Homo sapiens: one gene and its partners. The protein of the gene in region 1 interacts with the protein of each later gene in a biochemical or structural test. Each region holds a gene or a part of one and is shown in the gene's direction. Other genes may lie near its edges.

Region 1 (3,653 bases):
CGGAGACTTTCCCTTCCTTGCTGCCCCCTCCAGCCCCAGGCTTGGTTTTGCTTTGTTTTTGACTAAGCTGAACCTCTTGACTCCTCATGTCCTTGTTTTCTGTCTCACGTGAGTTTAGCCCAGCAGCAGGCCTAGAGAGTCTTCATGGCGTGGGGTCTCCCTTCCCTGTACCTCCACCTCAGGACCCCCACCCTCCAACCGTCAGCCCTCCTAAAATACTTCTAAATTAATCTGTTAGAAGAGCATCCCTATGTGGGGGTGGTGGGGCCCCCAACCATCAGCCCTGGGGAGGTGGAGACTGTGGCAGGGCAGGGAGGAGCCCCAAAGGGGCCGGGACACAGCGGGGTGGCTAGTATCTGATGAAAGCACCATCCGGGCAGCAGCGCACAGGCCAGCGCAGCAGAGGCTGGAGACGCATCTGGAATTCGGAAGAAACAAACATGGGGTTGGGTAGGGTGCCTAGACCTGAAGAGGAGGAGGGACAGCAGCCAGCTGTGAGGCTCCTGAGGACGCATCTGCTGGGGGCAGGAGTGCAGCTTTGTGTGGGGGCCTCTGGCCAAGGGGAGAGCTTGGCCGGGCGGGAGGAGTCCCTGACTGTCCCTGGGGCCAGCGGCCTCTCCAAGGCGGATACGGATCTCTCCAGGCTTAAAAACAAACCAAGATGAGCAGAACATGTTCAGACAAGAGGACGAGGGCTAGAAACAAAATTCACCAACTAGGCTCAGACCAGGGCGGAATTTGAGGGAGACCCTGCTGCACATGGTTCCAGCGGAGGAGACCCCAGTGCTGAGCCCACGTGATGCCTAGCGAGGCAGCGCTCAGGGGACTGCGGCTGCGGGGCCATGCCCAGGCACGGTCTCGGGGGGCTGCGGCTGCGGGGCCCTGTCCAGGTGCGGGGATGGGAGGCTGCAGCTTCGGGGCTGTGTCGAGGGAGCAGGCCCCGCTCTCCTTCCTGCCAGATGCAGTGGACCAGACTGAGGAACTATCTGAACCCTTATTTAATAAGACAGGTTTCTTAAATCCATGCCACAGCCCGGGCGCAGTGGCTCATGCCTGTAATCCTAGCACTTTGGGAGGCCGAGGCAGGAGGATCATGAGGTCAGGAGATCAAGACCATCCTGGCCAACATGGTGAAACGCCATGTCTACTAAAAATACAAAAATTAGTCGGGCATGGTGGCAGGCTCCTGTAGTCCCAGCTACTCGGGAGACAGAGGCAGGAGAATCACTTGAACCCCCGGGGGTGGAAGTTGCTGTGAGCCGAGATCGCACCACTGCACTCCAGCCTGGGCGACAGTGCGAGACTCTGTCTCAAAAACAAAAATGGCTGAGATGGCCGGGCATGGTGGCTTATGCCTATAATCCCATTTGGGAGGCCGAAGTGGGTGGACCACTTGAGGTCAGGAGTTCGAGACCGGCCTGGCCAACATGGTGAAACCACGTCTGTACTAAAAATACAAAAATTAGCCGGGTGTGTTGAGAGGTGCCTGTAGTCCCAGCTACTCAGGAGACAGAGGCAGGAGAATTGCTTGAACCCGGGAGGCAGAGGTTGCAGCGAGCCGAGATTGTACTACTGCACTCCAGCCTGGGTGACAGAGCGAGACTCCGTCTCAAAAACAAACAAAAAAAAGGCTGAGATGGAGGCTGGGTTGTCAGTGCCACCTCGGCAAGATCTCGACCTTGACCTTGTGCCAGCTCCTCTTCCCCTGGCGTCACTGTGTTTTGGCATCTGGCGGGGGGACCTGCTTCATCAGCTGCCCTCTGCACCTGCCTGCCAGCAGGGGCCTGGCCTCCGTGCACCAAGCACACCTCGCCCTCTGGCCTCCCGCCCCCTCTGTGGCCTTCTGGCCGCAGCCCTGCCCCTGCCTGCATGGTGTGCCTGCCTCCTGCCCCTTCCTGCTTGTGTGACACGCCTCCTCCCACCCAGCTCCCGTGGAAGTCGCTGACCAGCATCATTGAGTACTACTACATGTGGAAGACCACCGACAGATACGTGCAGCAGGTGAGCCCGCCCGCCACTCAGTGCCCGGGGTGTGCCGCCTCCCCGTCCTGCGCCCCATCCTCTCCCAGCAGGTGGGCGTGCACTGCTGCAGCAGGAGGGGAAGGAAGACTCCTGAGTCCCTGGCCCGGCTGTCCTCTCCGTGGTGCTCTCCTCTCCGTAGCCTCCAGCCTGTCTGCACTGCAGCCCCAACCTGGGCCTAGCCTGCTGACCTCTGACCTTCTCTTTTGTTTTAAGAAACGCTTGAAAGCAGCTGAAGCTGAGAGCAAGTTAAAGCAAGTTTATATTCCCAACTAGTAAGTGTGCCCTCACAGCCGTCGTCCTCGTGGCCCCGGGGGCCAGGGAGGGTGGGCACAGGGTGCTGGGGCCAGGCGGGTCCCAAGGAAACTCAAGCTCAGAGGCTGGGAAAGTTGGGGCAGCCCCCGGGAGGGCGGCCCAGGGCTGGGGGGTTCTGGCTGCAGACGCAGTGGCCATGTCTCTGTCGTCCTGGCCTCCTGGTCAGTAAGGGGGCATTGGGATTCCAGCCCACACCGCCAGGGTTCAGTCCCTGAGCTGGGCTCCATGCTAGGGGGAGCACGGGGGCCTGGAGAACGGCTCAGACCTCAGCAGTGGCTCCCAGGAACTGAAAGGGGAGAAAGGAAGATCCCTGCCGAGGCCGAGGGGTGCGAGGACGTGGTTCTGGACAAGGGGTGGTCAGCCGCGGTGCCTGCTGGGCACATGGGCCCTCGAGGTTTGTGCTCCTGCAACTCCTCTCGTCTCTCCTTTCCCTCTTTAAGTAACAAGCCAAATCCGAACCAAATCAGCGTCAACAACGTCAAGGCCGGTGTGGTGAACGGCACGGGGGCGCCGGGCCAGAGCCCTGGGGCTGGCCGGGCCTGCGAGAGCTGTTACAGTAAGTGCCCTGGATGGCCGGGGGCACACCGCACGCCCGCCTGTGGGCCGTGGTGCCTGCGTTGGCCCTGAGGGCTCCAGCATGGCCCAGCCTGCAAGGGGCCCACTGACGATGGGGGCTGCGTCCCAGGGGTGTGGTTGGGAGAGCCTCGGGGAACGTGTGGGGGTGCCTGGCGGGTGGGGGCGGCCGGCGTGGGGGTGGCGGGGAATACTCTGACATCGCTGGTTCTGCTTAAGAATCCGTCTATTTCCAACTTTGTTGTCCGTAGCCACACAGTCTTACCAGTGGTATTCTTGGGGTCCCCCTAACATGCAGTGTCGTCTCTGCGCATCTTGTTGGACATATTGGAAGAAATATGGTGGCTTGAAAATGCCAACCCGGTTAGATGGAGAGAGGCCAGGACCAAACCGCAGTAACATGGTAAGGGGGGGGACACCCGCCCTGCCTGCCATGAGCCTGTCGGCCACGCGGGTCCTCGGCCCCCGGTCATGGCGCTGTGTTGGGGCGGTTGCGCCCCCTTCCGCAGAGTCCCCACGGCCTCCCAGCCCGGAGCAGCGGGAGCCCCAAGTTTGCCATGAAGACCAGGCAGGCTTTCTATCTGCACACGACGAAGCTGACGCGGATCGCCCGGCGCCTGTGCCGTGAGATCCTGCGCCCGTGGCACGCTGCGCGGCACCCCTACCTGCCCATCAACAGCGCGGCCATCAAGGCCGAGTGTGAGTCACCCCAACGCCCCGCTTACTCTGTTCCTGCGGGTGGTGGG
Region 2 (3,114 bases), on another chromosome or scaffold:
TCGATGGTTCTTTCTACTTGTTATAAACTTGTAGCTTAATTCAGCATTGGGTGAGGTAATAAACCTTAGGAACTAGCATATAATTCTATATTGTATTTCTCACAACAATGGCTACCTAAAAAGATGACCCATTATGTCCTAGTTAATCATCATTTTTCCTTTAGTTTAATTTTATAAACAAAACTGATTATACCAGTATAAAAGCTACTTTGCTCCTGGTGAGAGCTTAAAAGAAATGGGCTGTTTTGCCCAAAGTTTTATTTTTTTTAAACAATGATTAAATTGAATGTGTAATGTGCAAAAGCCCTGGAACGCAATTAAATACACTAGTAAGGAGTTCATTTTATGAAGATATTTGCTTTAATAATGTCTTTTTAAAAATACTGGCACCAAAAGAAATAGATCCAGATCTACTTGGTTGTCAAGTGGACAATCAAATGATAAACTTTAAGACCTTGTATACCATATTGAAAGGAAGAGGCTGACAATAAGGTTTGACAGAGGGGAACAGAAGAAAATAATATGATTTATTAGCACAACGTGGTACTATTTGCCATTTAAAACTAGAACAGGTATATAAGCTAATATTGATACAATGATGATTAACTATGAATTCTTAAGACTTGCATTTAAATGTGACATTCTTAAAAAAAGAAGAGAAAGAATTTTAAGAGTAGCAGTATATATGTCTGTGCTCCCTAAAAGTTGTACTTCATTTCTTTTCCATACACTGTGTGCTATTTGTGTTAACATGGAAGAGGATTCATTGTTTTTATTTTTATTTTTTTAATTTTTTCTTTTTTATTAAGCTAGCATCTGCCCCAGTTGGTGTTCAAATAGCACTTGACTCTGCCTGTGATATCTGTATCTTTTCTCTAATCAGAGATACAGAGGTTGAGTATAAAATAAACCTGCTCAGATAGGACAATTAAGTGCACTGTACAATTTTCCCAGTTTACAGGTCTATACTTAAGGGAAAAGTTGCAAGAATGCTGAAAAAAAATTGAACACAATCTCATTGAGGAGCATTTTTTAAAAACTAAAAAAAAAAAAACTTTGCCAGCCATTTACTTGACTATTGAGCTTACTTACTTGGACGCAACATTGCAAGCGCTGTGAATGGAAACAGAATACACTTAACATAGAAATGAATGATTGCTTTCGCTTCTACAGTGCAAGGATTTTTTTGTACAAAACTTTTTTAAATATAAATGTTAAGAAAAATTTTTTTTAAAAAACACTTCATTATGTTTAGGGGGGAACTGCATTTTAGGGTTCCATTGTCTTGGTGGTGTTACAAGACTTGTTATCCATTTAAAAATGGTAGTGGAAATTCTATGCCTTGGATACACACCGCTCTTCAGGTTGTAAAAAAAAAAAACATACATTGGGGAAAGGTTTAAGATTATATAGTACTTAAATATAGGAAAATGCACACTCATGTTGATTCCTATGCTAAAATACATTTATGGTCTTTTTTCTGTATTTCTAGAATGGTATTTGAATTAAATGTTCATCTAGTGTTAGGCACTATAGTATTTATATTGAAGCTTGTATTTTTAACTGTTGCTTGTTCTCTTAAAAGGTATCAATGTACCTTTTTTGGTAGTGGAAAAAAAAAAGACAGGCTGCCACAGTATATTTTTTTAATTTGGCAGGATAATATAGTGCAAATTATTTGTATGCTTCAAAAAAAAAAAAAAGAGAGAAACAAAAAAGTGTGACATTACAGATGAGAAGCCATATAATGGCGGTTTGGGGGAGCCTGCTAGAATGTCACATGGATGGCTGTCATAGGGGTTGTACATATCCTTTTTTGTTCCTTTTTCCTGCTGCCATACTGTATGCAGTACTGCAAGCTAATAACGTTGGTTTGTTATGTAGTGTGCTTTTTGTCCCTTTCCTTCTATCACCCTACATTCCAGCATCTTACCTTCATATGCAGTAAAAGAAAGAAAGAAAAAAAAAGGAAAAAAAAAAAAAAACCAATGTTTTGCAGTTTTTTTCATTGCCAAAAACTAAATGGTGCTTTATATTTAGATTGGAAAGAATTTCATATGCAAAGCATATTAAAGAGAAAGCCCGCTTTAGTCAATACTTTTTTGTAAATGGCAATGCAGAATATTTTGTTATTGGCCTTTTCTATTCCTGTAATGAAAGCTGTTTGTCGTAACTTGAAATTTTATCTTTTACTATGGGAGTCACTATTTATTATTGCTTATGTGCCCTGTTCAAAACAGAGGCACTTAATTTGATCTTTTATTTTTCTTTGTTTTTATTTTTTTTTTTATTTAGATGACCAAAGGTCATTACAACCTGGCTTTTTATTGTATTTGTTTCTGGTCTTTGTTAAGTTCTATTGGAAAAACCACTGTCTGTGTTTTTTTGGCAGTTGTCTGCATTAACCTGTTCATACACCCATTTTGTCCCTTTATTGAAAAAATAAAAAAAATTAAAGTACACATTGTAAGCTTCTTGTGTCCTCATTTGACACACTCTGTAAATTACTTGCAAGAAAATAACAGGTTTTAAGAGAAGGCCAGTCAGTCTTTTTCAGGATTATTTCTATGGGCATTCTGATGCGTGTATTATACCCTAAAGGAACATAAAGTACTTACTATATTAAAATAGACATATCTCAAACCCTGGACATAGTTTTAAGGCTTTCCAGTTTAGAATAGTTTTCAAGAAATGGAAGGTGTTTTCAGTCTGATGTTAAAAACTTACTCCATCTCTTAGCAGAAATCCATTCAAACATAAGTGAAAAAACTTGCTGGTAATAGCATCTTAAACTTTTATTTCCTTTAAATTTTTTGCTGTTCTTGTTGTCTAAAAGTTCTTTTCTATTCTCCCATCCTTGCTTTATCTTAGAACATAATGTAAAAAAGATTTTTTTAAAAAAAATCAGCTCTTTGGTTTCCATGTAAGAGTCTTTTCTCATAACAAAATAACCCCACTTTTGAAATCTAAAAATCTGGAAACAAAGGCATCAGGTTTTGTTTTGTTTTGTTTTGTTTTGTTTAAAAAAGAGGGAGAAAAAAAGAGAGAGACGAAAGAAAAGAAAGCAGCCACTAGGGGTGTAGCCAGACATAGTGAAATCTTTGGAATCAGCCA
Region 3 (3,653 bases), on another chromosome or scaffold:
GGTAGGGACCAAGTATAAAGCACACCTAAGAAATATGAGCAGGATTTCATACCATCTTTTATAGTATAAGATGGCATAAATTTAGAGGTGTTAGGGAGGAGAACTGCAGAAAAACCAGGTTTACCTGTTGATGAGATTACATGTCTTATGCCTTTCATTGAAATCTGTTTTCCACACCTTTTCCAGGATGGCAGTGGTAGGGTATTCATTTTGGAACACTATATTTTAGGCAATGAATAAGAACCTATTAGTGTATGTTTTCTTAATGTTGGAGGCCAAAAAAGAGACAGGTGGCCTTCAAAAATTAATAGCTCTTAAAAGGCATAAGGAAATACAACTTATGGAAATGTTCTTGTCAGACATTGGTGAGAAGCTGTGTTTTGGGGGTGCTGTTAATTAAGAACATTTCCCTGTTGGCGTAAGTGTCTCACATTTTTGCCCTTGGTGCCCAGCTCACCATGAGCACGGTCAATTCACAAGGTAGTTTTTATAAATAAAGGTTTTGGGCAAGCTGAACGTGGTCCAGAGAGATATTAATGAGAGGGCAAGGGGGAAGAGTTAATGAAAACATACTTCCTGGTGGAACATAAACTGCTTTTTGGAACTGGAGAGGCTTTAAAATTATTTTCCCAAAACCCTGTGGCGTTTCTTTTCTGGAGGCAATGAGATGGGGAGAAATGACAAATGGCTTCGTTTTATTATTTTCTCCTCTCTCGTTCTCCATATTTTTGGTAGGGAAAATTGGACATTTATTTTGGCCATTTTCCTTCTATTCGCAGAATCAATTACATTTTTGGTGTATTATGCGTGGTAAATATACTCAAGGATCCTCTGGCTTAAAAGCAATGAGTTGATTATTCGAACATCCCTTCTTTAAAGGCAGTTAATTGCATGGAAAACATAGGCCCCCATTGTCTGGTCCCTTTAAACTTTTATTCTGAGATTTGTTCCCAGGGTCTGGGCTGTGTAGTGTAGTTGTTGTTCTGCATCATTGGCTGTTGTATATTCCAAGAAAAATAATTTTAAGCTTTTAAATCATACAGTGATTGAAATCTTGCATTTCAGATGGACTGAAATCTCAGGCCACTAGTGTTCAAGGATCTACAACATTTTATAACCTATATCACTTAAAGGAGGCTTGGCTAGCTTTGGGAGAATGCTGCCTTCTAGAGGGTTATGTAAATCAGGAATTGTGGCTAATTTTTTCTTTTGTAGATTGCTGCCTGTTCTGGAATTTTTTTCTTCCACTCAAAAGTGTGATGGTGCCATCTAGAATTACCTGTGCTTTTCAGTTTTCAGTGGAACAGGAGTTAGATCACATCTCTTTAGTTGGAGGAAAATTTAGTGAGTGTTCTAGTCTACATGTCACTTCGCAGTTCCCCCATAGTTACATAATTGGTGTTGTGTGTGTCCATCGTAGAAGACATTTGATGCTCATTTATTAAATATGCTTGCTGGCTGCTGCTGCATCTTTGTTCTGGACAGACAAATTACCTTTCTCACACTGAGCTTCCACTCTGGGGAATTAAGCCTTCACCACTTTAATTAGCTTGGAAGTAGGGGGTTGCAGTTCCTAATAGACTACAGGCTTTTTGTAAGTTAGGGAAAGGGTGAAACGAGAACTTCCTGGGAGGCTCAAAATGTCATTTAAAAACCATAACAACCTAATATGTATTATTTCATTTTGGTAATTGCAAACAGATTGTATTTGACAAGTGTGTGGATTTCCATTTCTGACTTAGACATTGAAGCCACCCTTGCATTGAACTATGTTCTTTTATCTATCACAGGTCATTAACACATTGCATGTATTGAATCACATATTTGTGTAGCTATTAAGTGACATAGCAGATAAGAAATAGTGAAAAATATGTGAATATTTGTACATAGAAATTTTCATATAGACACACACCTATAGGTAGTACCAATATGGGTGAATATTTTTCACATGGGGATATCGGAATAATAATGATAACTGCCAGTATTTGTTGAACTTTTATTAAGGGCCAAGCACTGTTGAAAGTGCTCCCATATGTATTATGTAATTATCATAACAGTGTCATTATCCCTTCTTTAAAGATGAGGAAACTGAGACACAAGCAGTTTAAGCAACATTCCAAAAGGTTACACGGTTAAGCATATGAACCCAAAACTTCCTAGGTAGGAACTTGTCTTGGAATGTCCCCGCTATTTAAAAAATTCAAGATCCCACTGCTGGGCAAGATGTTACATTCCTTTTGGAAAGACACTTGCTCTTAACAGAGTTAAGCAATTAATTGTAGTACTTTACACCAGAAACTTTCTGAGCGTCCATTTACTGTCTCATTTTCTTTGCTAGTAAAACTGCAGAAAATGTTATGCTTTAGTTCTTCACTGCCAGAGTAAGTAGCATAGAAAGCCTCTATCAAGTCACAGTTGGAAAGTAATCTAATAAAAGAAGATTAGTGAATGTGGGGAAGACAAAAGCAGTCATGTTTGAGTTTAATATCTCTCAAATTTAGCATTTTAGCTAAGATGCCCGTTTTTATTTCTTGCAGGTCTGCTAAAAGGTCAGAGTAATGCAGAATGCGTGCCTTCATCTCAGATTTGTTCATCACAGGTGGATCCCATGTGTCTTCAGTAGACAAGTCACCTTTGTAGCTAGCACCAGTGCCAGCTCCATGCCATTGCACCTTCTTTAGTCTTGATTGCCCTTCCCGCATTTATTGGTGTATTAAAATGACTGAATATGAACATTAAGGACTCCATGAACCTGGGCTAATGGGAGACTGTAGAGAAAATGAAAAAAGATCCACCAGAGGACATCTTGGGGAGGGGGAGGGAGCTGGGGGGGAGGGAAATGACTAATGAAGCTAATTAAAAGAAGCATTCAAATCTGCTTTCTACCCTCATTAACAATTAGCAGGGCACTGGCCAGAGTTTGTACCCTGTGTTTTACCTTAACAACATTCTATTTGCTCTTTGTATATTTAAGTGTTGTAAGGAAACGTGTTTCAATCAAAACTGACCATGAGATAAAGGAAAGAGATGTGGCTTTTGTGATATTCTATCACAAACACTTATTGTATCTCTGTAAAATACAATGTATGTATGCATGTAAGTGTTTTTGTCCTAATGTTGCTACTCCCATGGCAAAGAAAAAAAAAAGAATGAAAAAAAGAAAAAAATTTGGAAAAAAAAATCAGGCTCATAGCAGCTACTGTGTAGAAAATTCCCCCTACTTCTAATTTGCTGAATGAAGAAAAAAAAAAATCTTTTATTTGTGATATTTTCAGAGACATTTGCTCTAGTATGGTGTATTTAAATAATAAAAACTTAAAAGAAAAAATATTTAATGGTGTTTGGGTTTAAACACTGCTTTTTCTCTTCTGTATTTTGAAGAAATTTAGTTTTTATTGTTGTTGAATAACAAGCTCACTTTAAATTTGAAGGAGTTGAGGGAGGTGGAGTGTATATTTATTTAGCTCTGGGCCAGTAAGGTATTCTTCAAATTACTTAACCACGCCATTATTGGCAGGGGTACAAAGTAGTTTCTAACAGGGTCCTTTCTATAAGTCAAGAATATTCTGTTAACAGCATTTCGTTACACTTCTATATCACAGTAAGTCTTTTGTGTTTATAAATACTTGAGTGTCCACTATTTTGTTTATTCT

What was found.
Region 2: the proteins of MTA1 (region 1) and BCL11A form a complex in vitro, tested with the Homo sapiens proteins (one study listed by BioGRID).
Region 3: the proteins of MTA1 (region 1) and LMO4 form a complex in vitro, tested with the Homo sapiens proteins (one study listed by BioGRID).

What each region holds. Positions count from the first base shown.
Region 1 is NC_000014.9:105,461,258-105,464,910, forward strand, and holds part of MTA1 (metastasis-associated protein MTA1), read left to right. Parts: intron 1-1,926; coding exon 1,927-2,001; intron 2,002-2,235; coding exon 2,236-2,294; intron 2,295-2,774; coding exon 2,775-2,890; intron 2,891-3,158; coding exon 3,159-3,310; intron 3,311-3,416; coding exon 3,417-3,606; intron 3,607-3,653. UniProt on the Homo sapiens protein: Transcriptional coregulator which can act as both a transcriptional corepressor and coactivator. Acts as a component of the histone deacetylase NuRD complex which participates in the remodeling of chromatin.
Region 2 is NC_000002.12:60,456,542-60,459,655, reverse strand, and holds the end of BCL11A (BCL11 transcription factor A), read left to right. Parts: 3' UTR 1-2,462; downstream 2,463-3,114. UniProt on the Homo sapiens protein: Transcription factor. Associated with the BAF SWI/SNF chromatin remodeling complex. Binds to the 5'-TGACCA-3' sequence motif in regulatory regions of target genes, including a distal promoter of the HBG1 hemoglobin subunit gamma-1 gene.
Region 3 is NC_000001.11:87,342,251-87,345,903, forward strand, and holds part of LMO4 (LIM domain transcription factor LMO4), read left to right. Parts: intron 1-2,537; coding exon 2,538-2,546; 3' UTR 2,547-3,653. UniProt on the Homo sapiens protein: Transcription cofactor. Plays a role in establishing motor neuron identity, in concert with MNX1, acting, at least in part, to disrupt LDB1-LHX3 complexes thereby negatively modulating interneuron genes in motor neurons.